Linked DNA regions of Homo sapiens. The protein of the gene in region 2 purifies or fractionates together with the protein of the main gene of each other region. This does not show direct contact. Each region holds a gene or a part of one and is shown on either strand. Other genes may lie near its edges. The genes, in order: TTL and LCP1.

Region 1 (16,517 bases), on a different chromosome or scaffold from region 2:
CTCAGGATTGTGTCCGGTTAAGTTTCATTAGAGATGCATTTTAAAAGGAGCATAAGTGTTGGACATTAAGCCTTTTGAATTAATTGGGGTATGCCTTTCAGGTTGCATCTAACAGCTGTGCGCTCCCCAATAACGCATTTGAGCTTTGTCCAGGGAGACTAAGAGCAAATAGAGATGTTAGAAGACTGAGTCATGCTTTGCCTCCCGGAAAGTCTCTGGGGGAAAGGAGTGGCCTTTCTGAAGGGAGTGACAAAGTGCACTAAGAAGGGAGGCTGATCCTCTTCTGTCATCTGCCAGGCTAATCAAGACAAGCCCTGAACTGGCTGAGTCCTGCACATGGTTCCCTGAATCTTATGTGATTTATCCAACCAATCTCAAGACTCCAGTTGCTCCAGCACAGAATGGAATTCAGCCACCAATCAGTAACTCAAGGACAGATGAAAGAGAATTCTTTCTCGCCTCTTATAACAGAAAGAAAGAGGATGGAGAGGGCAACGTTTGGATTGCAAAGTCATCAGCCGGTGCCAAAGGTGAGTTGGCACTGCTGTCCCCTTCTCTATTCCTGGTAAGTTGCTATTGTGATGTATTTAGATGAATGACCCTATTTTAATCTGAATCATCGAAGGTTGAGACCGTGTCTAGTTACATAGTTATAAATACCCATCTATGTACTGATGCCTTCTAAATGTCTATCTCCAGTATGGTCTTTTCCTTTAAGCTCTAGATCCATTGACACCCTCACCATCTCTAAAAGGCATTTCAAACTGAACACATCTGATACAGAACTTTTCATTTCCTTCCCAACTTTGCCCACGCCAGCCTGCTCCTCCTTCACGCTTTCCACTTAGTATATGATCCCACTATTCACTCAGTCTCTGAAGCTTAAAACCTAGGATTCATCCTTGACTACTGTATTCTTTACAATCTACTCCTAATGCATTAGCAATTCTTGCTAGCTCTACCTTCAAAATATATTCTGAATAGACTATTTCTTGCCGTTTCCCCTGCTTCCCCTCTAAATCAAAACCCCCATTCTTTTTACTGTGTGTAACTGCCGAGCCTGCTCTCAACCAGTTCTCCTTCCAGACAATAATGTTTTCAAAACGTAAATCTAATCATGTTACTTCCTACTTAAGACTTACCAGCTGGCTTCCTAATGCAATTAGAATGAACTCCGGATTCCTAATGGTAGCCTGCACCATTTGACATTTGCCCATATCTCTGATCTCATCTCCTTCTATCCTCAGCTTTGCTCTCTGCACTGTAGACACAAAGACTGCCTAGTATCTCTCGAATATTCCAAACTTGTCTCTGTACCTAGAATGTGCTTACATGGATTGTTTTGTTTCTCTTACCTCAGTTGCTGGCTCCTCAGGGAAGGCTTTTCTAATCTAAAATAGCCTCCGTGTCCATTGCTTTCTTTCCCTTTCCCCTGCCTCATTTACCTCCTGACATTAACCTTTTCCTGGCACTATACTACTTCTCTGTCCATCTCTCCTATTATTCTGTAGGCTTCACACAAACACAGACATTCTGTCTTATTCATCCTTGTACCTTCCTCATAGGCAGTCAACAAATATATGTTGAATGAATGCATGTAAGGGGTAAGGTTTATAATGTTAACTCAGGCTGAAAATAGAGGCAGTTCCCAATGTAATGAACACATAAACAATCTCTGTCTATGTTAATGCCCTCATACGCTCTTTATAAAACCATTCTGGCTGGGCATAGTGGCTCACTGCCTGTAACCCCATCGCTTTGGGAAGCCGAGGCGGGCGGATCACAAGGTCAGGAGATTGAGACCATCCTGGCTAACACGGTGAAACCCCGTCTCTACTAAAAATACAAAAAATTAGCTGGGTGTGGTGGCGGGTGCCTGTAGTCCCAGCTACTCGGGAGGCTGAGGCAGGAGAATGGCGTGAACCCGGGAAGTGGAGCTTGCAGTAAGCTGAGATCGCACCTTCAGCCTGGGTGACAGAACAAGACTCCTTCTCAAAAATTAAAAAAAAAACCATTCCATTTTGAACTCACTTCTTGTATTGCCTTGGAAGACATCTAGCCATTGGTACTCATTTCTGTTCCGGGTCGAAGGGACCTCACCTTCTTTTCCACCAGCGATGAGACAGGAAGGCCTCAACTGGTATCCCTGAAAGGGGGAGAGTTGGACTCTTGCCACAAGTCAGGTATCTCACCTACTTCTCTCTCCCCTCTTGTGACCTTTTCTCAACTACTGCCCCCTAGTGTGGTTCCAATGGTAAATGACGGATTTGGAAGAGGAAATAGACATCCCTTCTCCTGTGGGTTTGGGATTGGAGTCAGAATGGCCACTGTGAGGACACCTGGTGATCCCTGGACCCTCACTAAGACAAGACTCAGAGGGACACCAAGCAGCAGGGGGAAGTCAAGAGAGAATAAAATGCTAAAGACTTTTTGCTTTAAGAGTTGAAGAGATATATATTTGATATATATTTATTATGTTTGGAAACCATAAAATGAAACCAATAGGATGAATGAATGGTTTTTATTCTTGTTAAACAAGTATTTATTTGGTACCCACTACATGCTTTGTATAGTTGGCTCAACCTTCAAACTCTACCCATTATGAAGCTACTGTTTACCATGTCCACTGCCTATTTCTAATCTAGCCACCTTCACCTCTCACCTGGAGCGTGGGAACACACTACATCTATAACAGAAAATTATTGTTTAGAAACAACCCCATTATTCCACTATTACAGATAACAGTAGTAAATGTCTTTGCTGTAGATGACCCTTGTTTCTTTTTTAATTTTAATTTTTTATTTTATATATATATGTGTCTGTGTGTGTGTGTGTGTGTGTGTGTGTGTGTGTGTGTGTGTGTATTTTTTTTTTTTTTTTGAGACAAGGTCTCACTTTGTTGCCCAGGCTGGAGTGAGATGGCATGATCTCAGTTCACTACAGCCTCGACTTCCTGGGCTCAAGCGATCCTCCCAACTCAACCTCTTTTTTTTGAGACAGAGTCTCACTCTGTCACCCAGGCTGGAGTGCAGTGGTGCCATCTCAGCTCACTGCAAGCTCCGCCTCCCAGGTTCACGCCATTCTCCTGCCTCAGTATCCCGAGTAGCTGGGACTACAGGTACCAGCCACCACACCCGGCTAATTTTTTGTACTTTTAGTTGAGACAGGGTTTCACCACATTAGCCAGGATGGTCTCGATCTCCTGACCTCGTGATCCGCCCGCCTCAGCCTCCCAAAGTGCTGGGATTACAGGCGTGAGCCACCGTGCCCGGGCCCGCTCCCATCTCAAGCTCTTGAGTAGCTGGGACGACAGCCGTGCACCACCACACCCTGTTAATTTTTTGATTTTTAGTAGAGATGAAGTCTCACTGTGTTACCCAGGCTGTTCTTGAACTCCTGAGCTCAAGTGATCTTCCCACCTCAAGCCTCCCGAAGTGCTGGGATTACAGGCATGAGCCATCACACCCAGCCTTGACTCTTGTTTCTTCTTAAAAATTTCATTAGAGTAAGTTTGAAACATGAGATTACTTGGTCAAATGATATGAAGCCTTTATGGCTCTTGCTCTGTGTTATCCTCTTGCTTTTTCAAAGGGCCGTGAGCTAACAGGGAGCAGTTCATGACGAACTTTTACTAAAAGTATCACCATTTTTGTTTTCTTATTTTGTAGGTATAAAACGATACATAAAATTCAAATTTATTTTATAATTTTTGATACTGTTGTATCAAAAAATCTGAGTCTGATTCCTAAGGGAGATGAAACAGCATGAGTCATGTGTGTAGGGGAAGAGAATAAGGGAGCTTTTCCAGGTTGATTTGCAGTTTCTTGTTCAAGAAGCTCACCAGATGGTCGAACAAGTGACAGGAAGAAGATAGTTGAAAAGGGCGTTAACGTTTGGGAAAGGTGGATCATTGAATTAATGAACTGAATTGAATTCATTTATAAAGAAAGCATGAGATCCAGGTAGAAATCAGCTATAAATCTAAAGCATAGATCAGAAGATTCTAGCAAACTGAAACCACAACGAACTGTCACTACACTTTTATTAAAATGGTTATAATAAGAAGTGGTGACAACTCACTAAAGAGTGAGTTCAGCCATGTTACGGGATATGAGAGCAACACACAAAACTTAATCACATTTTTATGTGCCAACAATGAACATGTGGAAACCAAAGTTAAAAACACAAAACTACTTAGCTGGGCGCAGTGGCTCACACCTGTAATCCCAGCACTTTGAGAATCCAAGGCGGGCGGATCACCTGAGGTCAGGAGTTCGAGACCAGTCTGGCTGACTTGCTGAAACCCTGTCTCTATAAAAATACACAAATTAGCCGGGCTTGGTGGCAGTCACCTGTAATCCCTGTTACTCAAGAGGCTGAGGTGGGAGAATCGCTTGAACCCAGGAGGCAGAGGTTGCAGTGAGCTGAGATCGCACCATTGCACTCCAGCTTGGGCAAGAGAGCAAAAATTCCGTCTAAAAAAAAACCAAAAAACTACAGTACTACTTACAGTCACCCTAGAGAAAATGTGATGCTTGGGTATAAATTTAACAAGACATGTATAGGCTCTGTGTGCTAAAAATAGTAAAATGATTATGAAGGAAGTCAAAGAGGACCTAAAGAAATGGACAGACATACCGTGTTCATGGATTGCAGGACAGTATAGTAAAGATGTCAGTTCACCCTAAACTGGTCTATAGGTTTATGTAGTTCTTATCAAAATGTTAGCAACATTTTTGTATAGACATGGAGCTTCTTTTAAAATTTACATGGAGGGGCCGGGCACGGTGGCTCACACTTGTAATCCCAGCACTTTGGGAGGCCAAGGCGGGTGGATCACCGGAGGTCAGGAGTTCGAGACCAGGCTGGCCAACATGGTGAAACCCTGTTCCTACTAAAAAATACAAAAATTAGCCAGGCATGGTGGCGGGCGCCTGTAATCGCAGGTATTTAGGAGGCTGAGGCAGAAGAATCGCTTGGGCCCAGCCTAGGCGACAAGACCAAGACTCCATCTCAATCAATAAATAAATAATAAAAATTCATATGGAAAGGCACAAGCCCTAGAATAGCTTAAACATCTTGAAAAAGAAGAATATAAGTGAACATGCTACCTGATATTAAGATGTATTTTAGAGCTATAGTACTTAATACACTGTAGTATTCATGAAAAAATAGAAACATAAATCAGTGGGGCCAGGCACGGTGGCTCTCGGCTGAAATCCCAGCAGAGGCCAAGGCGGCTGAATCACCTGAGGTCAGGAGTTCGAGACAAGCCTGGCCAACATGGTGAAACCCCATCTCTACTAAGAATACAAAAAAATTAGCCAGGTGTGGTGGCGCATGCCTGTACTTTCAGCTACTCGGGAGGCTGAGGCATGAGAATTGCTTGAACCAGGGGGCAGAGGTTGCTGTGAGCCGAGATCACACCACTGTGTGACAGAGCAAGACTCTGTCTCAAAAACAGAAGAAACATAAATCAGTGGAAGAGAATAGAGAACTCAGAAATAGACCAAAACATATATGCCCATCTGATATTTGAAAAAGGTGCAAAAGCCATTCAATAGAGGAAGGATAAACTTTTCAACAAATTGTACTAGATAAGGTGGATATCAACAGGCAGAAAAATGAACATCAACATAAGCTTCACACCTCATACAAAAACTAACTCAAAATGGATCGTGGACCTAATAATTTTTCAGAAAAAAGGAGATAGGGCTTGGCAAAGAGTTCTTGAGCTTGACTCCAAAAGTGTAATCCATAAAAGTAAAAATTGATAAATTGAACCTCATCAAAATAAAACTTCTGCTCTATGAAACACCTCATTAGAGGATAAAAATGAGTTACAAACTGGGTGAAAGGATTTTTAAGTCATACATATGACAAGGGACTCAGATCTAGAATATGTAAACAACTTTCAAAACTTAACAGTAAACAACAGACACACAATCCAATTAGAAAAAGAGCAAACAGTAAGACCCCAGCTCTACAAAAAAAATACAAAAATTAGCCAATGTGGTGTCACACACCTGCATACGTAGTATTCCTGAGAATTGAAAATATATGTTCATAAAAACTTGTATGCAAATCTTATAGCAGCATTATTCATAAGAGGCAGACAAGAATGGAACCAATGCAAACGTCCATCAATTGATGACTAAATGAACAAAAATGACTTCAGCCATAGAAAGGAGTGAACATGATACTAATACACACTACAATGGGGATGAGCCTTGAAAACTTTGTGCTAAGTGAAATTAGACACAAAAGGCCACATACTGTGTGATTCCATTTATATGAAATGTCCAGATGAGACATCCATAGATACAGAAAGTAGATTAGTGGTTGTCAGAAGCTGGGGTGAGGAGGGAGTAGTGAGTGACTGCTAATAGGTACAAGAGTTTTTTTGGGGGGAGTGGTGAAACCGTTCTAAAATTAAACTGTAGTAGGCCGGGCATGGTGGCTCACACCTGTAATCCCAGCACTTTGGGAGGCCAAGGCAGGCAGATCACGAGGTCAGAAGACCAAGACCATCCTGGCCAACATGGTGAAACCCCATATGTACTAAAAATACAAAAATTAGCCAGGCATGGTGGTGCACGCCTGTAATCCCAGCTACTTGGGAGGCTGAGGCAGGAGAATTGCTTGAACCCAGGAGGCGAAGGTTACAGTGAGCTGAGATTGCGCCACTGCACTCCATCCTGGGCGACAGAGTGAGACTCCATCTCAAAAACAAACAAACAAACAAAGAAATAACAACAAAAACTGTAGTAATGGTTTAAAACTCTTGAATATACTCAAAGCCATTGAACTGTGCACTTTAAAAGGATAAATTTTTTGGTATATGAATTATACTTCAAGCTATTAAAAAGGATATATCAATTATTTAATGTTAATGGACAATTCCAATGTATCCAGTTTTTTCTATTGCAATGCTGCAAGGGACGTACTTGAACATTCATCTTTATGCCTTTATCTTCCTGGTAGTTCTATAAGATATAGTGAAGGAAGGGGATTTATTGTTGTTATAGTCTTTATTGTGGTAGCCAGTGACTAGTAATAGAATGGTATTTATTTTGAGTGCTTAGGCACTACGAATTTCTGTAAAACTGACGTTTCATGGTTGTAGCCAGCCAAGATAGCGTTGACACCTGTATGGAGAAAGAGTTGGTAGGATAATCCTGGGTGCTCTTGAGGGGAGAAGGGAGCATGTGGGGGACTGGAGTAAGGAAGGGAGGGAAAAAGGTGAGCGGGACATTGAAAGCCTCTTGTGGGGTTTTTGCTGTTCGTATTTCCTTTCTGGATTTATAGAGAGCTCTTGGTTTGAATTGGATTGGTTTGTCTTTTGCTTTTTCCCTGTTAGGTGAAGGCATTCTCATCTCCTCAGAGGCTTCAGAGCTTCTCGATTTCATAGACAACCAGGGCCAAGTGCACGTGATCCAGAAATATCTTGAGCACCCTCTGCTGCTTGAGCCAGGTCATCGCAAGTTTGACATCCGGTAATGCATTCATGTCCATAGCTTTTGTTTTTATTCATCTGAAAAAACTGCCATGGTATGTGGTGGGAAGGGGGACATGGAATATGAGGAAGCGTTTGACCATGTTTAATATGTTACCAAAATTGAGCACAGCTGAATGGAACTTACCTTCTGTACCTAATTTTCTATTTTTCTTTCTTGTTTTTTCCATCTAGAAAATGTTACTACGATTATGGATTTTCTTTTTTAAAAAATATTCTTTTCTGGCTGGGCACAGTGGCTCACGCTTGTAATCCCAGCACTTTGGGAGGCCAGGGTGGATGGATCACCTGAGGTCAGGAGTTCGAGACCAGCCTGGCCAACATGGTGAAACCCCGTCTCTAGTAAAAATACAAAATTAGCCAGGCATGGTGGCAGGCACCTGTAATCCCATCTACTCAGGAGGCTGAGGAAGGAGAATCACTTGAACCAGGGAGGGGAGGTTGCAGTGAGCTGAGATTGCACCATTGCACTCCAGCCTGGGTAACAGAGTGAGACTCCTGTGTCAAAAAAAAAAAAAAAAAAATCTTTTCTATAAAAATGACTTGTGGATTCAAAGAAATGAATATAAATGTATGGTCTTGCTCATGGAATAAACTGAGAGATGTGCATGGAACACGTAATTCAGACACAACAGGTTGTGCAACCTTGCCAAATAATTTCTCCTCACTTCATTGTTTGTGTCCCACTCTGTGGATTTTATGACCACACCTCAGGGGATTTTAAGTTTCTGAGCAAAGGGCTTGGCATGGAGAAAGAGGTTGTGTGGTGCATTCTAAAGCTAAACAGCCCTCCCTCTCCAACTTACCCTTGGCCTTGCTGTCAGCTCATTGCCAAGGACTCTGTCTCCTTGATTGCTTCATAACGATTTGTCGCTTCTTGAACATCAACATAGGTCAGATCATCTTCAGGAGGAACACTCTTTAAGATTACTCAAAGAGGAGACATAACAAATGGAGGTTTCATAGGTTAACCTTAAAATCCAACCCATCCAGGGCTTGGTGTGGTGGCTCATGCCTGTAATCCCAGCACTTTGAGAGGCCAAGGTGGGTGGATCACCTGATGTCAGTATTTTGAGACCAGCCTGGCTAACATGGTGAAACCCTGTCTCTACAAAAAATACAAAAATCACCCGGGCGTGGTGGCATGCGCCTGTAATCCCAGCTACTGAGGAGGCTGAGGCAGGAGAATTGCTTGAACCCGGAAGGCGGAGGTTGCAGTGAGCCGAGATCACACCATTGCACTCCAGCCTGGGCAACAAAAGCAAAACTCCATCTCAAAAAAAAAAAAAAAATCATCTGATTTTTTTATCTTTTGATCAAATTTCCCTGTTATTTATGGTAAAATGTTTTGTTTGCCTCATTGTAGTGATAACTCACTATCTTAGCTAAATCATAACATGCCTCTTATAGTTTTAGAAACTTCCTCCTTCCCTAGTTGCCTCCCACTCCTTACCTACCCCATAAAAGAAGTCAAGATGTGGGGATTGATGTATATAATATGCAGAAACTTTGGATGACTTGAGTAAAGCAGTGTTTTTGTTGAATTGCAGAAGCTGGGTCTTGGTGGATCATCAGTATAATATCTACCTCTATAGAGAGGGTGTGCTTCGGACTGCTTCAGAACCATATCATGTTGATAATTTCCAAGACAAAACCTGCCATTTGACCAATCACTGCATTCAAAAAGAGTATTCAAAGAACTACGGGAAGTATGAAGAAGGAAATGAAATGTTCTTCAAGGAGTTCAATCAGTACCTAACAAGTGCTTTGAACATTACCCTAGAAAGTAGTATCTTACTACAAATCAAACATATAATAAGGTAACTTAATTGTATCTTTTTGGATTACGTGTTTCTTCTTGAAGGAGCTTTGGCGTCTATGCCTTTCAAAGAATTGTTTCATATAAGTTGTCTAATTTATGGTCAAAAATTTTTTGTAATATTCCTTTATTTTCCTTTTAATGTCTGCAGGTTCTGTAATGATGTCTCCTCTTTCGTTTCTGATAATGGTTATATGTGTGTGTGTATGTGTGTGTGTGTGTGTATATATATATATATATTTATATATTTATTTATTTATTTATTTTTTTGAGACAGAGTTTTGCTCTTGTTGCCCAGGCTGGAGTGCAATGGTGCGATCTCGGCTCACCACAACCTCTACCTCCTGGGTTCAAGTGATTCTCCTGCCTCAGCCTCCCAAGTAGCTGGGATTACAGGCATGTGCCACCACGCTGGGCTAATTTTGTACTTTTAGTAGAGACAGGGTTTCTCCATGTTGGTCAGTCTGGTCTTGAACTCTTTTTTTTTTTTTTTTTTTTAATCAATAGTTTTCTTTATCATAGATTCAAAATTTTAAGCTTATTTTCCTTCCATTCTTTAGGCATTCAACACGTTGATGAAAAGTACAATGTCAGTCTACTTCTCATTCTTTTATCCGTAAACTTCTTTTTTTTTTTTTTTTTTTTATTATACTCTAAGTTTTAGGGTACATGTGCACATTGTGCAGGTTAGTTACATATGTATACATGTGCCATGCTGGTGCGCTGCACCCACTAATGTGTCATCTAGCATTAGGTATATCTCCCAATGCTATCCCTCCCCCCTCCCCCGACCCCACCACAGTCCCCAGAGTGTGATATTCCCCTTCCTGTGTCCATGTGATCTCATTGTTCAGTTCCCACCTATGAGTGAGAATATGCGGTGTTTGGTTTTTTGTTCTTGCGATAGTTTACTGAGAATGATGGTTTCCAATTTCATCCATGTCCCTACAAAGGATATGAACTCATCATTTTTTATGGCTGCATAGTATTCCATGGTGTATATATGCCACATTTTCTTAATCCAGTCTATCATTGTTGGACATTTGGGTTGGTTCCAAGTCTTTGCTATTGTGAATAGTGCCGCAATAAACATACGTGTGCATGTGTCTTTATAGCAGCATGATTTATACTCATTTGGGTATATACCCAGTAATGGGATGGCTGGGTCAAATGGTATTTCTAGTTCTAGATCCCTGAGGAATCGCCACACTGACTTCCACAATGGTTGAACTAGTTTACAGTCCCACCAACAGTGTAAAAGTGTTCCTATTTCTCCGCATCCTCTCCAGCACCTGTTGTTTCCTGACTTTTTAATGATTGCCATTCTAACTGGTGTGAGATGATATCTCATAGTGGTTTTGATTTGCATTTCTCTGATGGCCAGTGATGATGAGCATTTCTTCATGTGTTTTTTGGCTGCATAAATGTCTTCTTTTGAGAAGTCTCTGTTCATGTCCTTCGCCCACTTTTTGATGGGGTTGTTTGTTTTTTTCTTGTAAATTTGTTTGAGTTCATTGTAGATTCTGGATATTAGCCCTTTGTCAGATGAGTAGGTTGCGAAAATTTTCTCCCATGTTGTAGGTTGCCTGTTCACTCTGATGGTAGTTTCTTTTGCTGTGCAGAAGCTCTTTAGTTTAATGAGATCCCATTTGTCAATTTTGGCTTTTGTTGCCATTGCTTTTGGTGTTTTGGACATGAAGTCCTTGCCCACGCCTATGTCCTGAATGGTAATGCCTAGGTTTTCTTCTAGGGTTTTTATGGTTTTAGGTTTAACGTTTAAATCTTTAATCCATCTTGAATTGATTTTTGTATAAGGTGTAAGGAAGGGATCCAGTTTCAGCTTTCTACATATGGCTAGCCAGTTTTCCCAGCACCATTTATTAAATAGGGAATCCTTTCCCCATTGCTTGTTTTTCTCAGGTTTGTCAAAGATCAGATAGTTGTAGATATGCGGCATTATTTCTGAGGGCTCTGTTCTGTTCCATTGATCTATATCTCTGTTTTGGTACCAGTACCATGCTGTTTTGGTTACTGTAGCCTTGTAGTATAGTTTGAAGTCAGGTAGTGTGATGCCTCCAGCTTTGTTCTTTTGGCTTAGGATTGACTTGGCGATGCGGGCTCTTTTTTGGTTCCATATGAACTTTAAAGTAGTTTTTTCCAATTCTGTGAAGAAAGTCATTGGTAGCTTGATGGGGATGGCATTGAATCTGTAAATTACCTTGGGCAGTATGGCCATTTTCACGATATTGATTCTTCCTACCCATGAGCATGGAATGTTCTTCCATTTGTTTGTGTCCTCTTTTATTTCCTTGAGCAGTGGTTTGTAGTTCTCCTTGAAGAGGTCCTTCACATCCCTTATAAGTTGGATTCCTAGGTATTTTATTCTCTTTGAAGCAATTGTGAATGGGAGTTCACCCATGATTTGGCTCTCTGTTTGTCTGTTGTTGGTGTATAAGAATGCTTGTGATTTTTGTACATTGATTTTGTATCCTGAGACTTTGCTGAAGTTGCTTATCAGCTTAAGGAGATTTTGGGCTGAGACGATGGGGTTTTCTAGATAAACAATCATGTCGTCTGCAAACAGGGACAATTTGACTTCCTCTTTTCCTAATTGAATACCCTTTATTTCCTTCTCCTGCCTGATTGCCCTGGCCAGAACTTCCAATACTATGTTGAATAGGAGCGGTGAGAGAGGGCATCCCTGTCTTGTGCCAGTTTTCAAAGGGAATGCTTCCAGTTTTTGCCCATTCAGTATGATATTGGCTGTGGGTTTGTCATAGATAGCTCTTATTATTTTGAAATACGTCCCATCAATACCTAATTTATTGAGAGTTTTTAGCATGAAGGGTTGTTGAATTTTGTCAAAGGCTTTTTCTGCATCTATTGAGATAATCATGTGGTTTTTGTCTTTGGCTCTGTTTATATGCTGGATTACATTTATTGATTTGCGTATATTGAACCAGCCTTGCATCCCAGGGATGAAGCCCACTTGATCATGGTGGATAAGCTTTTTGATGTGCTGCTGGATTCGGTTTGCCAGTATTTTATTGAGGATTTTTGCATCAATGTTCATCAAGGATATTGGTCTAAAATTCTCTTTTTTGGTTGTGTCTCTGCCCGGCTTTGGTATCAGAATGATGCTGGCCTCATAAAATGAGTTAGGGAGGATTCCCTCTTTTTCTATTGATTGGAATAGTTTCAGAAGGAATGGTACCAGTTCCTCCTTGTACCTCTGGTAGAATTCGGCTGTGAATCCATCTGGTCCTGGACTCTTTTTGGTTGGTAAACTATTGATTATTGCCACAATTTCAGAGCCTGTTATTGGTCTATTCAGAGATTCAACTTCTTCCTGGTTTAGTCTTGGGAGAGTGTATGTGTCGAGGAATGTATCCATTTCTTCTAGATTTTCTAGTTTATTTGCGTAGAGGTGTTTGTAGTATTCTCTGATGGTAGTTTGTATTTCTGTGGGATCGGTGGTGATATCCCCTTTATCATTTTTTATTGTGTCTATTTGATTCTTCTCTCTTTTTTTCTTTATTAGTCTTGCTAGCGGTCTATCAATTTTGTTGATCCTTTGAAAAAACCAGCTCCTGGATTCATTGATTTTTTGAAGGGTTTTTTGTGTCTCTATTTCCTTCAGTTCTGCTCTGATTTTAGTTATTTCTTGCCTTCTGCTAGCTTTTGAATGTGTTTGCTCTTGCTTTTCTAGTTCTTTTAATTGTGATGTTAGGTGTCAATTTTGGATCTTTCCTGCTTTCTCTTGTAGGCATTTAGTGCTATAAATTTCCCTCTACACACTGCTTTGAATGCGTCCCAGAGATTCTGGTATGTGGTGTCTTTGTTCTCATTGGTTTCAAAGAACATCTTTATTTCTGCCTTCATTTCGTTATGTACCCAGTAGTCATTCAGGAGCAGGTTGTTCAGTTTCCATGTAGTTGAGTGGCTTTGAGTGAGATTCTTAATCCTGAGTTCTAGTTTGATTGCACTGTGGTCTGAGAGATAGTTTGTTATAATTTCTGTTCTTTTACATTTGCTGAGGAGAGCTTTACTTCCAACTATGTGGTCAATTTTGGAATAGGTGTGGTGTGGTGCTGAAAAAAATGTATATTCTGTTGATTTGGGGTGGAGAGTTCTGTAGATGTCTATTAGGTCTGCTTGGTGCAGAGCTGAGTTCAATTCCTGGGTATCCTTGTTGACTTTCTGTCTCGTTGATCTGTCTAATGTTGACAGTGGGGTGTTAAAGTCTCCCATTATTAATGTGTGGGAGTCTAAGTCTCTTTGTAGGTCACTGAGGACTTGCTTTATGAATCTGGGTGCTCCTGTATTGGGTGCATAAATATTTAGGATAGTTAGCTCCTCTTGTTGAATTGATCCCTTTACCATTATGTAATGGCCTTCTTTGTCTCTTTTGATCTTTGTTGATTTAAAGTCTGTTTTATCAGAGACTAGGATTGCAGCCCCTGCCTTTTTTTGTTTTCCATTGGCTTGGTAGATCTTCCTCCATCCTTTTATTTTGAGCCTATGTGTGTCTCTGCACGTGAGATGGGTTTCCTGAATACAGCACACTGATGGGTCTTGACTCTATCCAACTTGCCAGTCTGTGTCTTTTAATTGCAGAATTTAGTCCATTTATATTTAAAGTTAATATTGTTATGTGTGAATTTGATCCTGTCATTATGATGTTAGCTGGTGATTTTGCTCATTAGTTGATGCAGTTTCTTCCTAGTCTCGATGGTCTTTACATTTTGGCATGATTTTGCAGTGGCTGGTACCGGTTGTTCCTTTCCATGTTTAGCGCTTCCTTCAGGAGCTCTTTTAGGGCAGGCCTGGTGGTGACAAAATCTCTCAGCATTTGCTTGTCTATAAAGTATTTTATTTCTCCTTCACTTATGAAGCTTAGTTTGGCTGGATATGAAATTCTGGGTTGAAAATTCTTTTCTTTAAGAATGTTGAATATTGGCCCCCACTCTCTTCTGGCTTGTAGGGTTTCTGCCGAGAGATCCGCTGTTAGTCTGATGGGCTTTCCTTTGAGGGTAACCTGACCTTTCTCTCTGGCTGCCCTTAACATTTTTTCCTTCATTTCAACTTTGGTGAATCTGACAATTATGTGTCTTGGAGTTGCTCTTCTCGAGGAGTATCTTTGTGGCGTTCTCTGTATTTCCTGAATCTGAACGTTGGCCTGCCTTGCTAGATTGGGGAAGTTCTCCTGGATAATATCCTGCAGAGTGTTTTCCAACTTGGTTCCATTCTCCACATCACTTTCAGGTACACCAATCAGACGTAGATTTGGTCTTTTCACATAGTCCCATATTTCTTGGAGGCTTTGCTCATTTCTTTTTATTCTTTTTTCTCTAAACTTCCCTTCTCGCTTCATTTCATTCATTTCATCTTCCATTGCTGATACCCTTTCTTCCAGTTGATCGCATCGGCTCCTGAGGCTTCTGCATTCTTCACGTAGTTCTCGAGCCTTGGTTTTCAGCTCCATCAGCTCCTTTAAGCACTTCTCTGTATTGGTTATTCTAGTTATACATTCTTCTAAATTTTTTTCAAAGTTTTGAACTTCTTTGCCTTTGGTTTGAATGTCCTCCCGTAGCTCAGAGTAATTTGATCGTCTGAAGCCTTCTTCTCTCAGCTCGTCAAAATCATTCTCCATCCAGCTTTGTTCTGTTGCTGGTGAGGAACTGCGTTCCTTTGGAGGAGGAGAGGCGCTCTGCGTTTTAGAGTTTCCAGTTTTTCTGTTCTGTTTTTTCCCCATCTTTGTGGTTTTATCTACTTTTGGTCTTTGATGATGGTGATGTACAGATGGGTTTTCGGTGTAGATGTCCTTTCTGGTTGTTAGTTTTCCTTCTAACAGACAGGACCCTCAGCTGCAGGTCTGTTGGAATACCCTGCTGTGTGAGGTGTCAGTGTGCCCCTGCTTGGGGGTGCCTCCCAGTTAGGCTGCTCGGGGGTCAGGGGTCAGGGACTCACTTGAGGAGGCAGTCTGCCCGTTCTCAGATCTCCAGCTGCGTGCTGGGAGAACCACTGCTCTCTTCAAAGCTGTCAGACAGGGACACTTAAGTCTGCAGAGGTTACTGCTGTCTTTTTGTTTGTCTGTGCCCTGCCCCCAGAGGTGGAGCCTACAGAGGCAGGCAGGCCTCCTTGAGCTGTGGTGGGCTCCACCCAGTTCGAGCTTCCTGGCTGCTTTGTTTACCTAATCAAGCCTGGGCAATGGCCGGCGCCCCTCCCCCAGCCTCGTTGCTGCCTTGTAGTTTGATCTCAGACTGCTGTGCTAGCAATCAGCGAGACTCCGTGGGCGTAGGACCCTCTGAGCCAGGTGTGGGATATAATCTCATGGTGCGCCGTTTCTTAAGCCGGTCTGAAAAGCGCAATATTCGGGTGGGAGTGACCCGATTTTCCAGGTGCGTCTGTCACCCCTTTCTTTGACTCGGAAAGGGAACTCCCTGACCCCTTGCGCTTCCCAGGTGAGGCAATGCCTCGCCCTGCTTCGGCTCGCGCACGGTGCGCACACACACTGGCCTGCGCCCACTGTCTGGCACTCCCTAGTGAGATGAACCCGGTAAGGTACCTCAGATGGAAATGCAGAAATCACCCGTCTTCTGCGTCGCTCACGCTGGGAGCTGTAGACCGGAGCTGTTCCTATTCGGCCATCTTGGCTCCTCCTCCTGGTCTTGAACTCTTGACTTCAGGTGATCTACCCCCCTCGGCCTCCCAAAGTGCTGGGATTACAGGCGTAAGCCACCATGCCTGGCTAATTTATATTTTCCCTCTATTTTGCTTGGACAGATTGACTAAACATTTATCAATTTTATCAGTCTTTTCAAAAAATTAGCTTTTGGTTTTATTGGTTTTCTCTGTTGTTTTTCTTTTCAGCTTCTTTGATTTATGCACTTTATCATTCTCTTCCTTTTGCTTTTTGGAGGATATAATTTACTCTTTTTCTAGTTGTGCTTTTTGTTTGTTTTTTAAGAGATGGTGTCTCATTTTATTGCCTAGGCTGGAGTACAAGTGTGATCATAGCTCACTGCTGCTTCAAACTTTTAGGCTCAAGGGATCTTCCTGTCTCAGCCTCCCAAGTAGCTGGGACTACAGGTATACACCACTGTGCCTGGCTAATTTTTTTATTTTTTGTAGAATTGGGTCTCACTGTCTTGCCCAGGCTGGTTTCAAGCTCCTGGGCTC
Region 2 (16,798 bases):
CATTAGGATTAGGTGAGACAGAGTGTTTAAAATATATACAACAGTGCCTGGTGACTGAAGGGAGAAAGAGAGGAAGAGAGGAAGGAAAGAAAGAAGGAAAAGGGAAGGAACAGAGGAAGTTAAAAGAAAATGTAAAAGAACTAGAACTTTTGCAAAATTATCTTGGAGAACAAATCCCAATTTCTAGTATAAACTGTAGGAAATATTGTCAAGTCGCAACTTAAAAGCAAAGATTAGTTGTGTTGTATACTATGTGTTTTGTGTGGGTGTAAATCTAGATCTCACATCCATGCTCTATGTTTTAATGTTCTCAGTCTGGCTTATTTTGGCTTTGGTACCACATTTCTTATTCGGAGTCCTTGAAGTCAGGTATTGCAGAACTGGTACATGATACCAACCCAAAGCCAACAGCATTGGTATTAGCTCATCCTGAGTGGTGAAGGGGCTCCGGGCTTTGCCTTGCCTGAGTACTGACAGTGGAAAGTACCTTCTAACAGTTGAGGAAGTATGGCCAGAGTGGAAAAATGTACAGCAATCTTAAGAAAAGCCCAACCACATACACTATGAGCCATGAAAAGAAAAGAGATCTCTGGGCATCTGTGATGAGGACCACTGGGCAACATCTCCTCTCTGTCAGATGCACCAATGCTCAGAACTGATTCTGTTATCCTGCACTACACTCTACCTCCTCTCCACTCTCTAATTCTCCAGGCATTTTTACCATTGTAGTCTGAGCTGAAAAACAGTGAGACAATGTACAGCAGACATTTGTATACAAGCAATGATAACAGAAACTTCTATTTATTTGTAATAATGTGATCTCATTCTCAATAGGCTTCTTGGATTTTAGAATCTCTAATGACAAGCTTATTTGCAGAAAAAAACAAAAGGAGAAGTTACAGATAAATTGAGACAGGAAATTTGTATTAATTTGATGGGCTCTCTTTATCTTCATTTTTTTTAAAAGTTACAGTTTAGTTGGTAAATATTTACCAATACCAACGTACAATGGAATATGTATAACATTTCTTTTATCAAAATTTTAAGTGCCTAAATAGCCTAATCTAATATCTTCACAGCTATTATTTTAAAGACTTCCCACCATAAAATCCTCAAGCATTTATATTTATTTCTCAAATATGTTTGGTATACCAGCCGACCTAACAAAAGGAGACTTGGGATCTCTTCCTGATAGAACATGTGGAATTATAGGCCGGGTGCAGTGACTCACACTTGTAATCCCAGAACTTTGGGAGGCCGAAGTAGGGGGATCGCCTGAGGTCAGGAGTTCAAGACCAGCCTGGCCAATGTGGTGAAACCCTGTCTCTACTAAAAATACAAAAACATTAGCTGAGCGTGGTGGTGTGTGCCTGTAATCCCAGCTACTCAGGAGGCTGAGGCAGGAGAATCTCTTGAACCCAGTAGGCGGAAGTTGCAGTGAGCTAAGATTGTGCCTGGGCAACAAGAGCGAAAACTCCATCTTCAAAAAAAAAAAAAAAAAGAAAAAAGAAAGAAAATGTGGAATTACAAATAATCATTCAATAATCATGGAAACACAAAAAAGTATATAGACATATTATCAGGAAGCAACTAGTGGATCATGTTAGAAGATACAAAACAGTTTAAATAGACATGGATTATACTTTTAAGAAACTGCCAACATAAAATGAGAGAGAGGAAAGGTGTGAATCTTGACTCTGCCAGTTACTGGTTCTGTGACCCCAGACAAGTCACTTAACCCTCCCTGAACCTCAGCTTGGTCATCTGGAATAAGGATATAATTAATAACAACTTTACCTAGCTATGTATGAAAATAAAAGAGTAATTATCTTTCAAGCGTTTGGCATGATGCCTAGTAAATATTAGGGGCTCAGTAAGTCAGTGGTGACGCTGGGTGGAGTAGATATGCTCCATATCTACCTAGACGACAACATGGGAAAATGGAAGGGGAAAATAACCCACATCACACCTAGCGAGTAGATAGCACTTGCCTGATTTTATAGATGAGGAAACTGAACTTCAGAGGCTCCAGAGACTTGCTCAGCCTCCACATTTACCAAGAGCCCAGAATATAAATCCAAATCTGTCTCTACCTTTGCTCCCCTTTCTTTATACCACATTTGCCTCTTTTGTGCCTGGGAGCTGCAGACACTCAGCTTTAAAGAACTGGTACTGGAGATATGGTACTGGAGGAAGAACTGCGTGCAGTGAACAGTAGGGTGGGTACGGAGGGAGGAGAAAAACTGTGTGAACATCACCAGGTAGATGAAGTATCACAACTGTCATTCTCAGTGGTCACAGAAAAGAAACAGAATCCATGATATTTTGAGGAACAGTCCCAACATGAATGACAGCAAGAAAAGGAAAAAATCCAAAGTTTTCCAAGGTGCCTACCATATTCCATATTTTCAAAGGGAAACTTTAAAACTGTTTATAAAGCATTAGAAACAGTGGGGGAAGTTCAGTTCGCATTTTTAAGATGACAAAAGAGTGCTCAACAGTGCAAAACTACAGGCATGATCTTCTCTTTTTTCCTTACTCCCACTTTGCACCTATTACCTAGCTTTCTCTATAAAGAATTTATATCCCACTCTTCTTTGTTCAAGCTGGCCTTTCTGGTGAGGGTGATATGAGCAGATGATGTCAAGGAGGTACAAAGGATCTACTTTTTAAATGTTACACCTGAGATTACTAGAGGCTGGGAAGGGTAGGGGGAAGGTGGAGGATAGGAGAGATTTGTTTAGATACAAAATTATAGCTAGACAGGAGGAATAAGCTCTCATGTTCTATAGCACTATAGGATAACTATAGTTAACAGTACATAGTTTTAAAATGGCTAGAAGAGAGGCGATTGAATGTTTCCAGCACAAGAAATAAAAAATGTTTGAGATGATGGATATGCTGATTACCCTGATCTCATCACTAGACATTGTATGTATTGAAACATTACTAGGTACCCCATAAATACATACCGTTATATGTCAATTTAAAAATAAATAAAAACTGAAAAAACATTTTCAGGATGGAAGCTATATTGAATGCACACACATCTATTATAATCTCATGAATTATTATAAAAGGTTTTTATGGAAAAAAAGTTGCACCTGAGGTTAATAAAGATCCACTTCTAATTTTAAACTTTGCCTAAGGAATGCTGAATAGGGAAAATATGCAAATTTTATACAAATAACATTTGTGTATCCTTTTACTTCACACATTTGGATACATAGCTTGGATAAATTTTAGTGACTACTACCAGACTGAGGAAACAAAATGCAGGGTATTATTTAAATACAAGGTAATTGTTCCATTAATTCACTTCCCTCTAGAAAGTGCAACCAGAAAAAGAAGGAAAGCAAATTATCTGGGAGATTGCAATTCACATGCATAATTAATCTGCTTGCTGAATTTGGTGTCAGCTTTTCTGCTATGGAAAACATAATCTCTTTTTCACTTTAGCTTATCCAGTCAAGAAGGAGTGTGTGAGTGAGTGTGTGTGTGTGTTTCCGTGTATGTGTGTTTATTTGTGTGTGTGTGTGTGTGTGTGTGTGTGAGAGAGCGAGAGAGAGAGAGGGAGGGAGACCCTCCCTTCTGTCCATGTAACAGATGCTGAAATAAGAATCAATGCTGCAACCACAGAACTGTGGGTTTGCTAGTTCCCCAATTTAACATAGCTTTTCCTTCCGCCAGAAAGAACAACTGACCATCTTTGAGTAACAGGCTCCTTGTACTTGCAAGTGGGGCTGACACAGCCATGGCTCTGAAGTTGAGCAAAACTTACTTAAACCCAGTAAGTGGTTCACTTTTACCTCTCTTCTTCCACTAACATTTAAAGCAATGTTTCATTCTTTCTCAGTTTTTAGGACACTTATATTTGGCCATTACTATACAATCATAGATATGTGTACTTGGGTATAAAAAGTAGAATGTTTAATCTATTCATGTCTATCAGTCACAACAGACTAGAAAATGTGAATGCCACTTGACTAAAATTATTCTAAACTTTAAAGGCCGGGCGCGGTGGCTCACGCCTGTAATCCCAGCACTTTGGGAGGCCGAGGCAGGCAGATCACGAGGTCAGGAGATCGAGACCGTCCTGGCTAACAAGGTGAAACCCGTCTCTACTAAAAATACAAAAAATTAGCCGGGCGTGGTGGTGGGCGCCTGTAGTCCCAGCTACTCGGGAGGCTGAGGCAGGAGAATCGCTTGAACCCAGGAGGCGGAGGTTTCAGTAAGCCGAGATCACGCAACTGTACTCCAGCCTGGGTGAGCCAGGAGGCAGAGGTTTCAGTGAGCCGAGATCGCGCCACTGCACTCCAGCCTGGGCGACAGAGTGAAACTCTGTCTCAAAAAACAAACAAACAAACAAACAAAAGACTAAGAACCTTTTAAAGTTTTTGAGGGTGGAGATCATGTTTTGTGACCCATGCAGAGGCCTGTAATTGTTAACAACCAACTTCTACTCAGTCAAGTGTACAGAGGGGCTGACTACTGATGCTGTTGCTGCTGCTGCTGCTGCTGATGGTGATGATAATGATGATGATGATGATATGATGACACAGAATAATTTGTTTATAAAAGCACTTATCATATAGATGCATTTATTTGGGGAAGTATTATGATTATTTGAGCTCAACTTGAGGGCTTAGTTACAAATAAGCACCATGGTTTGCTACCTGTTTATTCCAGGAAGTTGCCTTGAAATTCAACAGTTAAGACAAAATTGATCCAATTGTAGAAAATTAAATAAAATACGTGAATGAATGAACTTGCCTTCAAATATGAAGAGGACACCAGACACTACCTCACAGGACTGTATGACAACTAAATGCTTTCATAGGGTTAAAGCACTTAGAAAAACACCTGATTCAATGTAAGTATTAACGTTATTATTAGGATGATTAATTGAAGCGCCTTCCACTCCCCCCCATCCCCCACCGATATCTTACAAGATGGAGCAGTTATGCAATTTCTGGGCAGACTGATGTAAGCATTGAAACTGACAAACCAAAACAACAGGAACAGTCAATAGTATAAGGCAGGAAGTTGGATCAGAAGGGAACTGAGGAAAGCAACAAGGAGATGCCATCTGGGGAACACCACGGCCACAGCAGCTATAGGGAGATATCCCTAGGAAACCAACATCTAATCAGGAGGTGACTTCCGAGAGCCTCAAAATGAAGACCCTGTAGAACATTAACACTTTTTTAAGGAGTGCGCTTCCATCTGGCAAAATAGGAACACTTGAAACTCTTCAAATCTGTGGACACTGATTAGTTTTATATTTTGATGTGTCCTAATTCTAATGTTTATTTCTGCAGTGTTCAGTATACAGATGAAATAGTATCATTTCATTTGATATCTGTAAGTTGGGAAACTAGCAGATAAAAAAACACTAGGAAGAAAATTAGATTAACTGAAATAATGTCACTCTACTATAAAATCTACTATTAGTAATAAAGTCCAAGCCTTTATAATCTTATTTTATAAGTGTTTGACTCTTCATAAGTATAACCTTATAAGCAGATTTCTTAATTTTATTTTACCTAAGCTGATTTTAAAAGTTGCTTGCCATCTCTCCTGTATACACAGAAGGGCCTGTACTCTTTAGGTAACAAGGAGAAGTTGACTTGAGAATTTTCTGAGAATAATCCAAAGTGACTAAGTAAAAGTTAACAACTGCCCTTGTGTTCTTTGTCATCAAAGAGGCCCATTATTGGGTATATAGTTTTGGCAAGGGTAGCTAAGTTTTGGCCCAACCAATGTATTTATACTAAAAAAATGAGATTGTAATTTTCCCTGTTTGTTAGTCATTGTACAATTTTTTAAATTTCTTGAGGTCAATGTCTATATGATACTTTGAAGCTAAAATGAGACTAGGGCTTCGGTAAAGCTGAAACATGGTAGAATGCAAAATATTATATTATTGTTGCATCTTCATTCATAGCAATAAATGGAAACTCAGTAAATATTAAGTTAATAAGTACAATCAAAGTCTTTCATGCGTATGTAAGAAGCTGAGAAAAAAAATACTTGTGACAAATTTTCAATTCAATAAATGCCTTTAGTATCTACATGTGCCAGGAAAGATGGAGAAGGAGCTCAGGTCTGTCAGCAAATAAGTACTTGAAACTAAGACAATGTGATTAATGTTATACTTACTCCAAGATCAAAGCATTGAGCAAATGCACACCAAAGAAACATTTAGTGGGGGCAGGGAGAAGATGGGAAGGCCTCCAAAAGGGTATGTTTCTTGAAGTCCGCCTTGAAAAATGATCAGAAGTTTTAAAAATAAAGAAGAATGCAATTAAAGAAACAGTTGCAGTGAAAAAAGGTGAAAGAGAATGGAACTTTCTGGTGGCTTGTGGTCTGGTGCACCAAAATGTGGGTTAGCAGTGGCGGGGGAGGGGATGGGGTAGTGGGAGGTTGAACAGAAGGAAGTGACAAGAAATAAGATTGGGGAAGTGGGTCGAGGCAAGTTTGTAAAGGCACACAATTCTTTAGTAAAATTATGCATTAATTTAAAAATAGTTCTTCAGCCCATTATTATATAAAACCTGCAATGGTATCTCTTATTTATAAAAATAAAAATGTTTGTAAATTTATTACAAAGTTTTTCTTCTCTCTCTCTCTCTCTTCTTTCTCTTGCTCTCTCTCTTTTATTCTCTCTTAAAACTGTGAGTGCCAAGATCTTGTTAGCTAGCTTCAGTAATAAAAGTCTATAATCACCTACCTCTGAGAAAAATATGCTGGCCTGGAAGGGAGGATCTGTAACACACACAGTCAGTAGGAGCCTGAAATCCTGGCCATCTACTGCCCCCCACCCCAACTGCCCAGTGACCTATGGCCGGTTCCTTCAATTATCTAGCCCATTCCTTATCTCTAAAGGTAGCTGAGAGGATTAAACGAGGTAATGCATAAAGAGTAGCTGCTTACACTACGTGCTCATAATTATTGAGTGCTATTATTAATTTCCTGTCCTCTCCAAGTTAAATGGTACTTTAACAACAAGTAAATGAGACTTTACTTGTTGGTCTTCCCTTCCCCAAAGGGTTCAGAGATAGAATTATAAATGAAGTTAAAGCACTGAAATTGTTTCCCAAATTACCAATTGTTTCAAGGCATAATTTACAAAAGAGACAAAAATTTAAATGCTACAAAGAAAAGGGTCTCTGGGATTGCTAAGGAAATGTCCTCCTAGGCACAACTCCATCCCACCACAGCAGTGCTTGTTCAAAGGGCAAGACCTAGAAGATTTTTCCCCTGATGTTCCTGGGGGTGAGCTAGAATGAAGAGGAATATCTTTGTAACATATGGGGTTGATGCTTTAGCAATGTAAACTTAACTTTAAACAGGGGACCTTTATATTTTGAATTAACTTTCGCATAGTTCTTTTTTATTCCTTCGTAAATATAAGAAAAATACTGACATTCCTTCACATTCGAATTTATTTTATTCTCATTAATAGTTTTACTTAAAATAAGACACAACATATTTTTAGTCTGTTCTTTTACGGGGTTCAAGTCCCTCTTATCTCAGTTTCACATTTTTGCTTGTTTGAAACTATTCAGGTGAGATGTGCAAAGTAACATTGGTGGTCACATTTTGCAGTTTCCAGAAATTCACATTTATAGGTAAATGATTAATTCTATTCAAATTTGTCTACACAGACATTCTTTAAACAATTATACTTAATAGAAACCAAACTTATGACAAATGTATGTAAATTCAAAATCAAGATGTGTGTGGATAAGCCACCTTTATTTGCTTACTGATAGTTCTGACAGAGTAATTTTAGAAAACAAGTTGCTGTGTAAAAGAAAAGTTCGGTTTTGATAAACATCCTGATTAATGTTCGCATTTCCAGTCTGAATGGCTTTTATAGTTATCATTTGTCAATGGTTCTTAGTGTTATGTGATAGTGGTAATTAAGTAAAAGCTTATACTACAAAATCCAAAGTGTCTATGTTTGGGCAGTTTCTGAAATAAATATCCCATATCAACTGTGTAAAAATTTCTATTGTAGATAAAAGCCTTTCTCCCAGAATTTGAGTGAATATTCATTGATATGGTCATAAGCATAACAAATAATTCAGACAATCCTACAAAAACACTACAATTAAGCATTATACAAATTGCTTTTATTTTTAGAGAACAAATGGAAAAGAGAAAACCTCTAATTCCATGTGGTTATAAAGCACACCCATTAAAAACCCTTGGCGCCAAAAATCACTCAAATAACCAGTATCACATTCAGTAACATATGACTCTAGATAATTTATCCACTAAAGTACTGTAAAGAAGTTTTTTAGAAAAACAGAACCGCAGGAACTAAAATTAAACTACCCCCATTGGGCCAATAAGCCATACAATCTAAATTATCAATACGCGCTTTTCCTGAAAACATTTTAAAGAAGATAAAATCACAGTAAATAGCCTCCGTGAAATAGAGCAATAGAAATAAACCAGAACATGGTTTGGTTTTAAAAGGAAAAAGAAACCTTAATTTTGGGCAGGGGTGATAACTGCAGATAAGTTGAGAAGAACCCAGCCCAGAGAGCCGAGGTGCTCCATCTTGGATGGCCACGCGAGGTGGCGGCAGATGTCCTGGCCAGTTAGACAGTGGCAGGAATCACAGAGGTCTCAGGTGACATGCTCAGATCTCTGGTCCCCTGAAGGCAAAACCCACAATCCACAGAAACAGTGCCGAAGTGCATCACAAGCGCTTAAAACCAACAAAAACACATGAAGAACATTTACCTTGCAGGAAAAAAGCTGTCCTTGGTAGTACTGGTGTATGACCAGGAACCCCTTCTTTCTGATCTGCAGAACAGCTTTGTCAAGCCTGGGTGTGTGGTCACAAGGCAGGAAGTGACTAGAATGACAAATCATCAGCCAGGAAAGAAAAAGATTTTGTCTTTATAAGGACATTTTAACTTTTTTTTCATGTCCCCGCCCCACCAAAAATCACCTGACAGAACAGGTCACAGTGAAATTCAGACACCTCCTACCACTTCCTCTTTTTTTTTTTTTTTTTTGAGACAAGGTCCCGCTCTTTTGCCCACCTCTTTATAAGCATTTTTCTCTCTCCCTTTCTCCTCCAGCTGTCTTTGAGTAGTCCCTGGGCTACTTAAACCTTTCTGATTCTAGATAGCAAGGCAAGATCAGCCTGATAACTTGACTTCTTTGACTCTAGTTGCAAAAGCAAAGCCCAGATGCCTACCTACTTACAGCAAAGATCAACAAATTTTTCATTTTTAGTGAAAGAGCCAGGGAAAAAGGTGGCAGTACACCTGAAACAAATGAAAAGGGACTTCCTTGGGAAAGCCCCACCCCACCTGAAATCAAACCTCTCTGGAGTCCTCTAACAGTGATCTTATTGGTGCAAACAAAACAGAACGATCTCTTTAAGTGAAGGACATGAAAAGGAAGGTTACTAGATTATTTACTCATTCTTTTATTTATAGAACATCTATGTGCTAGGGATCTCTTTAACCCAATTAAGTATCTCAATTATTTAAGCGTTTCCTATAAAGAGCAGCAGTAGATTGCACAGGCAGCTGTTATATTTAAATGGGTAGCTTAATTCCTTCTTACAGGCAGGATTTTTTTTTGAATGCACATTTTATAAAATTAGCAGGTGGTGGCAGGGGAAGCTCTGTTCTGTACCCAAACCCCAGATGCTTGAGGGCAAATTCCTATCTTCAAATGGAGCATCCTCAAGTGCTCACAACAGTTGTGAAGACTGTGGCACCCTGAGTTATGTTGACTAAATATTAGACATGTCTCCACATTGCCCGGAGACTGTGTGTGACTCCAGTAGTCAATCTGCCGTTTAGGAATGAGGGTATGTGGCTGTACTCCCAGGTCAGATGCTGCGCTGAAGATATCTGCTCCAGAGTTGACATGCGTCCGTGTCCGCTGGGCCACGGGCCTCTCAGGTGGTCACGGTATTCTGACTGGTTGGAGGGCTGCCCTTATACTTCTTTTGCTTTTTTGATTTCTCCTCTAGAAAGTTCCTGTTTCTGACCTTAAATGTTAAACCAAACTGTTCTGGTTTATCTACTTCATTAGCCAGTGGTGTGGTGACTTCATCAGAAGCCCACAGGGGCTATCTTGAGGAACTGGGTGGGCGGAAGAACAGGACGAGACGGTGGGGATTCTAGAAACGGTTCACCTCACAGAGAGCTATCAGCCCTCTTGTGATTTCCCAGGGAAGACTGAGGGGGTGATGGGACTCTGTTTTCTCCATCGCATAATCACTCCCAATTAATAAGTTGCAGAGAGCTTTCAAGAAGCACCTACATTCTTTCAGGACACCAGAGGAACATCCATGCATCACTGTTACAGCACTGCTCACGCTACAAAGCAGCAAAATGCTGTCTTCATTCGGGGCCCTGCAGCAGGACTCTGTAGATAATGTCCTGCTGGTGTTACAGATACAAGGGGTTGTAACTGTGGACCTCCCTGATCTGGTTCCACATCCTGGTGGCTTCAGGATGGCATAAAGGCCCAACAGTAACACTTCATGAAGGGGAACAGATATTTATTCCTTTACCTTGGAGAAGGAAAGCACAGTGTTCTGTATCTAGTGGTGCCTGGTCATCTGAGGCCGGAGGAATCTATGAAGAAGAGCAAAATATATTTGTGCATTGGTTCAGCAAGTGTTTGCATGCCTGTCTGAATTGGTGATTCAGAAATAAATAAGACACAATCGCTGTTCTCAAGGAGTATAGTCTAGTGGGGAAAAAACATGTAAGTAAATAAATGCCATCTATAATAGAGGGGTGAAAAAGGCAGTGTGATATCAAAGCAGTTGCAGATTTGAGCAGAGGTGATGTTTGTTAAGTGAAGAAAAAGATTTAGGATTCCAGGCAACGTCGAGGTTGTAGAAGATGAAAGGCATTGACCTGGGTACTGCTTACAGCCACCCAGTTAATAGAGTCGTCTTCTACCCTAGCATCCACGGCAGGCACCCACACCCCCTCAGCCACATCCTGGCCGGCACCATTGCAAGCCCTGCCCTACTCCCTCAATCTTAATCTCTTTATCTGCCTCTCATTGGTGTAAGTCTACCCAGTTTCAGGCAATTGTTTAGGTCCTAGACCAAGACTTTTTCAGAGAAGTGTATTTTTTTGCTGTTGGTGTTTTAAATTGCTTGTGCAGCATAGTACTAGTAAACAGAAGACTGACTTTTGGTTTTCTTACGTTTTTATGTTCTGTACAGACAGTGCGCCCCCTTATGGCCTGAAGCCGGAGTGGACCTTTCTCAGCCCACCCTCTATGAGCCTCCACTGCCACCTGTTCCTGGCCTGGGTTTTGCCTTCCTCTAAGCCCTACCACCCTCTCAGACTTCATCCCACCCTCTCCTGCCCTGAAGCCTCTGGCCTCAGTCCCAGATATCAGATCACCTGCTACTCTCAGGCCTCTAAATATTGCTGAGGAAAGTCACAGAAACACAAACTTGGAATGCTAAAAAGTCAAGATGCTTGACTTCAAATTACTTTCAGAAATACTTCTATTCAATTTTACTAAGTCTTGAGAACAGGCATTCTCAACCTGGAGTCCATAGACCCCTAAAACTAAATGCACAATTTTGTGTGTATGTACTTTTTTTCTGGGAGAAGGGTCCATTGTATTAGTAAAGAGATCACAGACCCCAAAAAGTTGGGTATTTATTCTAAACTCTCTCCTCTTGCCTCAACCTTCCACTTCACCCTCCTATGCTTTGTCCTGGCCCAAGATTCTTCTGTTGCCCCTTCTTGACTGAGATGATCCAAGTCGTCTGGTATGAGCTTCCTCTCTACTTCCACAATATCCACCTCTTCCTCCTCTCTTTCAGTCTTAATGGAAGCGGCATTCTTCTTTCTTCCCAAGGTCAGTGTTTCAACACTATCTCACTCTTAATATTCTACTTCCTTAGATATCTTGCTCCATCAATTGTCTCGTGTTTCTCTAGCATCTTAATGCTAGCATCTTCAGCTCTCCCCACTTCCTCTCCATGCACTCATGGGATTTGTATGAAGAGAAAAACACCTTTGCTTCACTCTGCAGCCCACCCTCATCCCAACATATCATGGGCAGGGAATGAAGATGAATTAAGATGGGTACAGTCCTTGCCATTGTAGAATGTCCACTGTAGTTGAAGACACAGACAAGGAAAAAAGGCAAGTGAAGAGTTATCTACTTGGAAGCACAACAGACGAAAAGCAGCGTCCCTAGGAGCACACAGCACTAACCCAGACATGGGACCTGGGAGGCAGAGAGAGGGAGCATCAAAGTGGTGAAGAGTAAAGATGCTGGGCCAGCTGGCTGGGGTCAAGTTCCAGCTCTACTGTTGTACTAGCTGTGTGATCTTGGGCAAATTAGTTACTTGCACTGGCCTCAGTTTCCTAGTCTATAAAATGGGGGTAAGAACAGTGTCTATTTTAGACAGTTGTTGCAAGGGGTAAGTGAATTGATATATGTAAAGAACTTAGAAGAGTGCCTGGCACGTAGTATATCCTATGTACGTGTTAACTAATCGCTTAATATTTACGTCAGGCTCTGGACTAGACCCCTAACATCCATTATTTCATTTATTCCTCACAACAACTCTATGAATTAGGTATGATTGTTAATTTTTTTCTTTAATTTTTAAAATAATGGCTTCATTGCAATATGATTTACATACCATAAAATTCACCTTTAAAAAGTATACAATTCAGTGGTTTGTTGTATTTTAACAGAGTTGTGCAACAATTACACTATATAATTCCAGAACATTTTCATCATCCCCAAAAGAAACTCTGTACCTGTTAGAGATTCCTCCCCATTCACCCCCATCTCCCAAATTCCCAGCCACAGCCAACCACTAGTTTATTTTCTCTCTCTATAAATTTGCCTATTCGGGACATTTCATATAAAGGGAATTACACAATACATGCTCTTTTGTGACGAGCTTCTTTCACTTAGCATGTTTTCAAGGTCCATCCATGTTGTAACATGTCACTACTTCATTTTATTATTTATTCATTTATTTTGAGATAGGGGCTCACTCTGTCGCCCAGGCTGAAGTGCAGTGGTGTGATTATAGCTTGCTGAGGCCTTGAACTCCTAGGCTCAAGCCATCCTCCCGCCTCAGCTTCCTGAGTAGCTGGGTCTACAGGCACGCACCATCACACCTGGATATTTAAATTTTTTTTTTTTCTATAGAGACAGGGTCTTGTCATGTTGGCCAGGCCGGTCTCGAATTCCTGGGCTCAGGTGATCCTCTTGCCTCGGCCTCCCAAAGTGCTGGGATTACAGACATGAGCCACTGCACCTGACCTTCACTCCTTTTTATGGAAGAATGCTATTCCACTGTATGAATATATCACATTTTATTTACTCATCAGCTGATGGATATTTGGATGCTGCCTACTATTTGATATTATAAAAATGCTGCAATTAACATTTGTGTACATTTTGTGCGTGTGGACATATGTTTTCTTTAATTTATTAATCAAAGTAATATATGTATTTGGTTTTAGAAGTCAAATATTACCTCAAGGCTTCTCATGAAACACCAGTCTCCCGACACACTCCTTCACCTCTGATTCCCATTCCCTAGAACCAAGTATTTTGAACAGTTTTAGCTAATTCTTCTGTTATTTTATTACATATTTCTAGATGTTATGCTTATGGTGTATCTTGATTGGGTTCAGATACCTACATATATTTATGTATATGTATATATATGTTCATATATTTTTTCCTTCCTACTTGAGAGATAAATATTTGACCCTCTCACATCCCCCAGTCCAACATATACATGTTAACCTTCCCATCATCCTCCAGAACAGTTTATAATACCCTTTTATTTAAATCAATACTCAGCTTTTACAGTAACTCAAAATATTCATAACTGAGTTAGGAATATTTTGCATTATGTTTTTGTATCTTTTTTTGATATGCTAGGTTTCTACGTACTTATTACTAATTCTGTATAAACTCTCCAACAGAGCTAAAATTCAATTTAAAACATCAAGAAATGAATCCATTCCTTGTTTCCCCCTTGGAGAGGCCCTTCCTCTGTTCGGTCCTGCTGCCCAGCTGCCTTCTAGAAGCTTCCCTACCTCATCACTCTGGGGACTCCTTTATTCTCCATCTAGGCTGAATCTCCTATTTCTGGACCACATGCCATCCACTTTCTTTGTCTACTTCCTTGTTTTAATGAGCATATCCTCTAGTAGATTCTTGAGAAACGTTCTATGGAACGTAAATTTCTTGAGACATTTTATAGCTGAAAACGATCTCCATTCTTTGAAATCCACACTGGAAATCATTTTCTCAGAATTTGGAAGGGATTGTTCCTGTGTGTTCTAGGTTCCAAGGTTGCTGTTGAGACATCTGATATCATTCTGACTTATGGTCCCTCTCACATCATTTTTGGTTTCTCTCTGAAAATTTTTAGAATTTTTTTTAATGCCAGGTGTTCTGAAAATTGTTGGTGATTTGTCCTAGTGTAAGTCTGTTTTCATCTACTGTGCAAGTTACTCAGTGGTCTTTTCTAATTGGGAAATTCAAGTCTCTCAGTTCTGGGAAATATTTTCTCTCTCCATCTCTCATTTCCTTTCCTCTGTTTCCTATGCCCTATTTCCCTGGGATTACATTTATTTGCATGTTATGCCTCTTGGATTAATCTTCTAATTTTCTTTTTTTCCTCCCATTTCCTGCCTCTTAGCCTTCCTATTCTACTGTCAGAGAGAATTTTTCTACATTTTCTTCAAAACTTCCATTGAACGTTTTATTTCTGCTTTCACCTCAAAATTTCTCTCGTAGTCTGTTTTGTGCTGTTATAACAAAATATCTCAGACTGGGTAAGTTATAATAAACAGAAATTCATTGGCTCACAGTTCTGGAGGCTGGGAAGTCCAATATAAGGTGCCAGCATCTTATGAGGGTCTTCTTGCTGCCTCATCCCGTGGCAGAAGGCAAGAAGGCAAGAAAGCAAGACTGGGATAAACTTGCTTTCTTATAATGGCATCAATTCTACATGGGGCAGTGCCCTGATGGCCAATCACCCCTTAAAGGCCTCACCTCTTAATACTATCACATTGGCAATTAAATTTCAACATGAGTTTTGGAGGGGACATTCAAACCATAGCAATAGCTAAAAACTCTTTTTTTCTGAATGTTTCTTTTTTTATTTTATAAAGCAACATGTGGGTGGGGATAAGGTGGGGAATGTCTTACTGCTCCTTATATAAACTTTCTACTAATCTTCCTATTTTTCAAGTCCCTCTTGCACTCTGCCTCCAAAGGTATCTGGTGCCTCGGAGTTCTGAGCTTTGCTGAGTGTCCATGGTGGGATTTGAATTACTTCTCTTTGGCGTCTCTCATTATAGGGTTAGAATTCAGCTTTTCCATATGTGTTAAGGCTAGTGTTATCACCTATTTCATGGTCTCCAACATACTGCTGACATCTCTGGTATACTTATTGCCTCATTTGATATTGGTGTCTCCTACTAGGAATTCCATGAGGCCAAGGGCCGTGTTTGCTTTATTAACTTCTAAACACCATATCCAACATTTCAGAAATGTTTGTTGAATAAATTAATGAAGAATGACATGGAAAGGAAAGGTGGAAATGTACTATAAGCATAAAGGAATGGCATGTGTGAAAGATCAGGTGGGAGAAATAAAGGTATGTCAAAAATATGACCAAAGCTGGATGCTACTGCAGTCAAGAGAGCGAAGCTGGGGGAAAGTGCAGAGAAAGAGAAAAGCTGGAGGATTTTGCAGAGACCAAGTCATAGTGGATCTTTTAACTGTGTTAAGGAATTTGGGCTTTGCCCTGTGTATTAATCAGTTTTCCAGTGAAACAGAACAATAGGATGTGTGTGTATGTGTGTGTGTGTGTATGTATTTATGTATGCATGTATGTGTATGTATAAAGAGATTTATTACAAGGAATTGCTTCATGTGATTAGGGAGGCTGACAAGTCCCAAGATCTTCATGACGATTCAGCAAGCTGGAGACCCAGGAGAGCCAGTGGTGTAGTTCTAGCCTGAAGGCTGGCAGGCCTGAGACCCAGGAAGAGCCAGCGTTTCAGTTTGAGTCTAAAGGGAGAAAAAAGCCAGTCTCACCTCAAAGGCAGTCAGTCAGGAAGAATTCTCTCTTACTCAAGGGGTGGTCAACCTTTTTGCTCTATTCAGGCCTTCAGCTGATTGGATGAGGGCCACTCCCTTAGGGAGGGCCATTTGCTTAACTCAGTCTACCAAGTTAAATGTTAACATCACCCAAAAACACTGTCACCAAAACACCCAGAATAATGTTTGACCAAGTATCTGGGCACTCCATGGCCCAGTCAAGTTGACACATGAAAAATTAACCACCACCCTGCAAGCAATGGGGAGCCATTTTAGGATCCATATTTACTTTCTAGGGCTGTTTTAACAAAGTACCAAAAACTGAGTGGTTTAAAATAACGAAAATGAATTGTCTCACAGTTCTGAAGTTAAAAATATGGAACTACAGTGTTGTAGGACTGGTTCCTTCTGAGAGTTGTGAGAGATAATTTATTCCATGTGTCTCTCCCAGCTTCTGGTGGGTTTGCTGGCAACATTTGTTATCCTTGGCTTATAAAGGCATCACCCCAATTTCTGCTTTTATCTACACATTTGCATCTAAATTTCCCCTTTTTAAAAAAGATGACAGTCATATTGGATCAGGGCCCATCCTAATGATCTCATCTTAACTTGATTGTCTGCAAAGACCCTATTTCTAAATAAGGCCACATTCATAGGCATTTGGATTTAGCACTTCAATATTTTT

The links.
Region 1: the proteins of LCP1 (region 2) and TTL purify together in Homo sapiens (affinity purification with mass spectrometry; 2 studies listed by BioGRID and IntAct, with this or other methods). This does not show direct contact.

What each region holds. Positions count from the first base shown.
Region 1 is NC_000002.12:112,493,846-112,510,362, forward strand, and holds part of TTL (tubulin--tyrosine ligase), read left to right. Parts: intron 1-297; coding exon 298-530; intron 531-7,360; coding exon 7,361-7,496; intron 7,497-9,066; coding exon 9,067-9,336; intron 9,337-16,517. UniProt on the Homo sapiens protein: Catalyzes the post-translational addition of a tyrosine to the C-terminal end of detyrosinated alpha-tubulin.
Region 2 is NC_000013.11:46,173,351-46,190,148, forward strand, and holds the start of LCP1 (plastin-2), read right to left. Parts: upstream 8,828-16,798; 5' UTR 8,761-8,827; exon of another isoform or gene 1-8,760.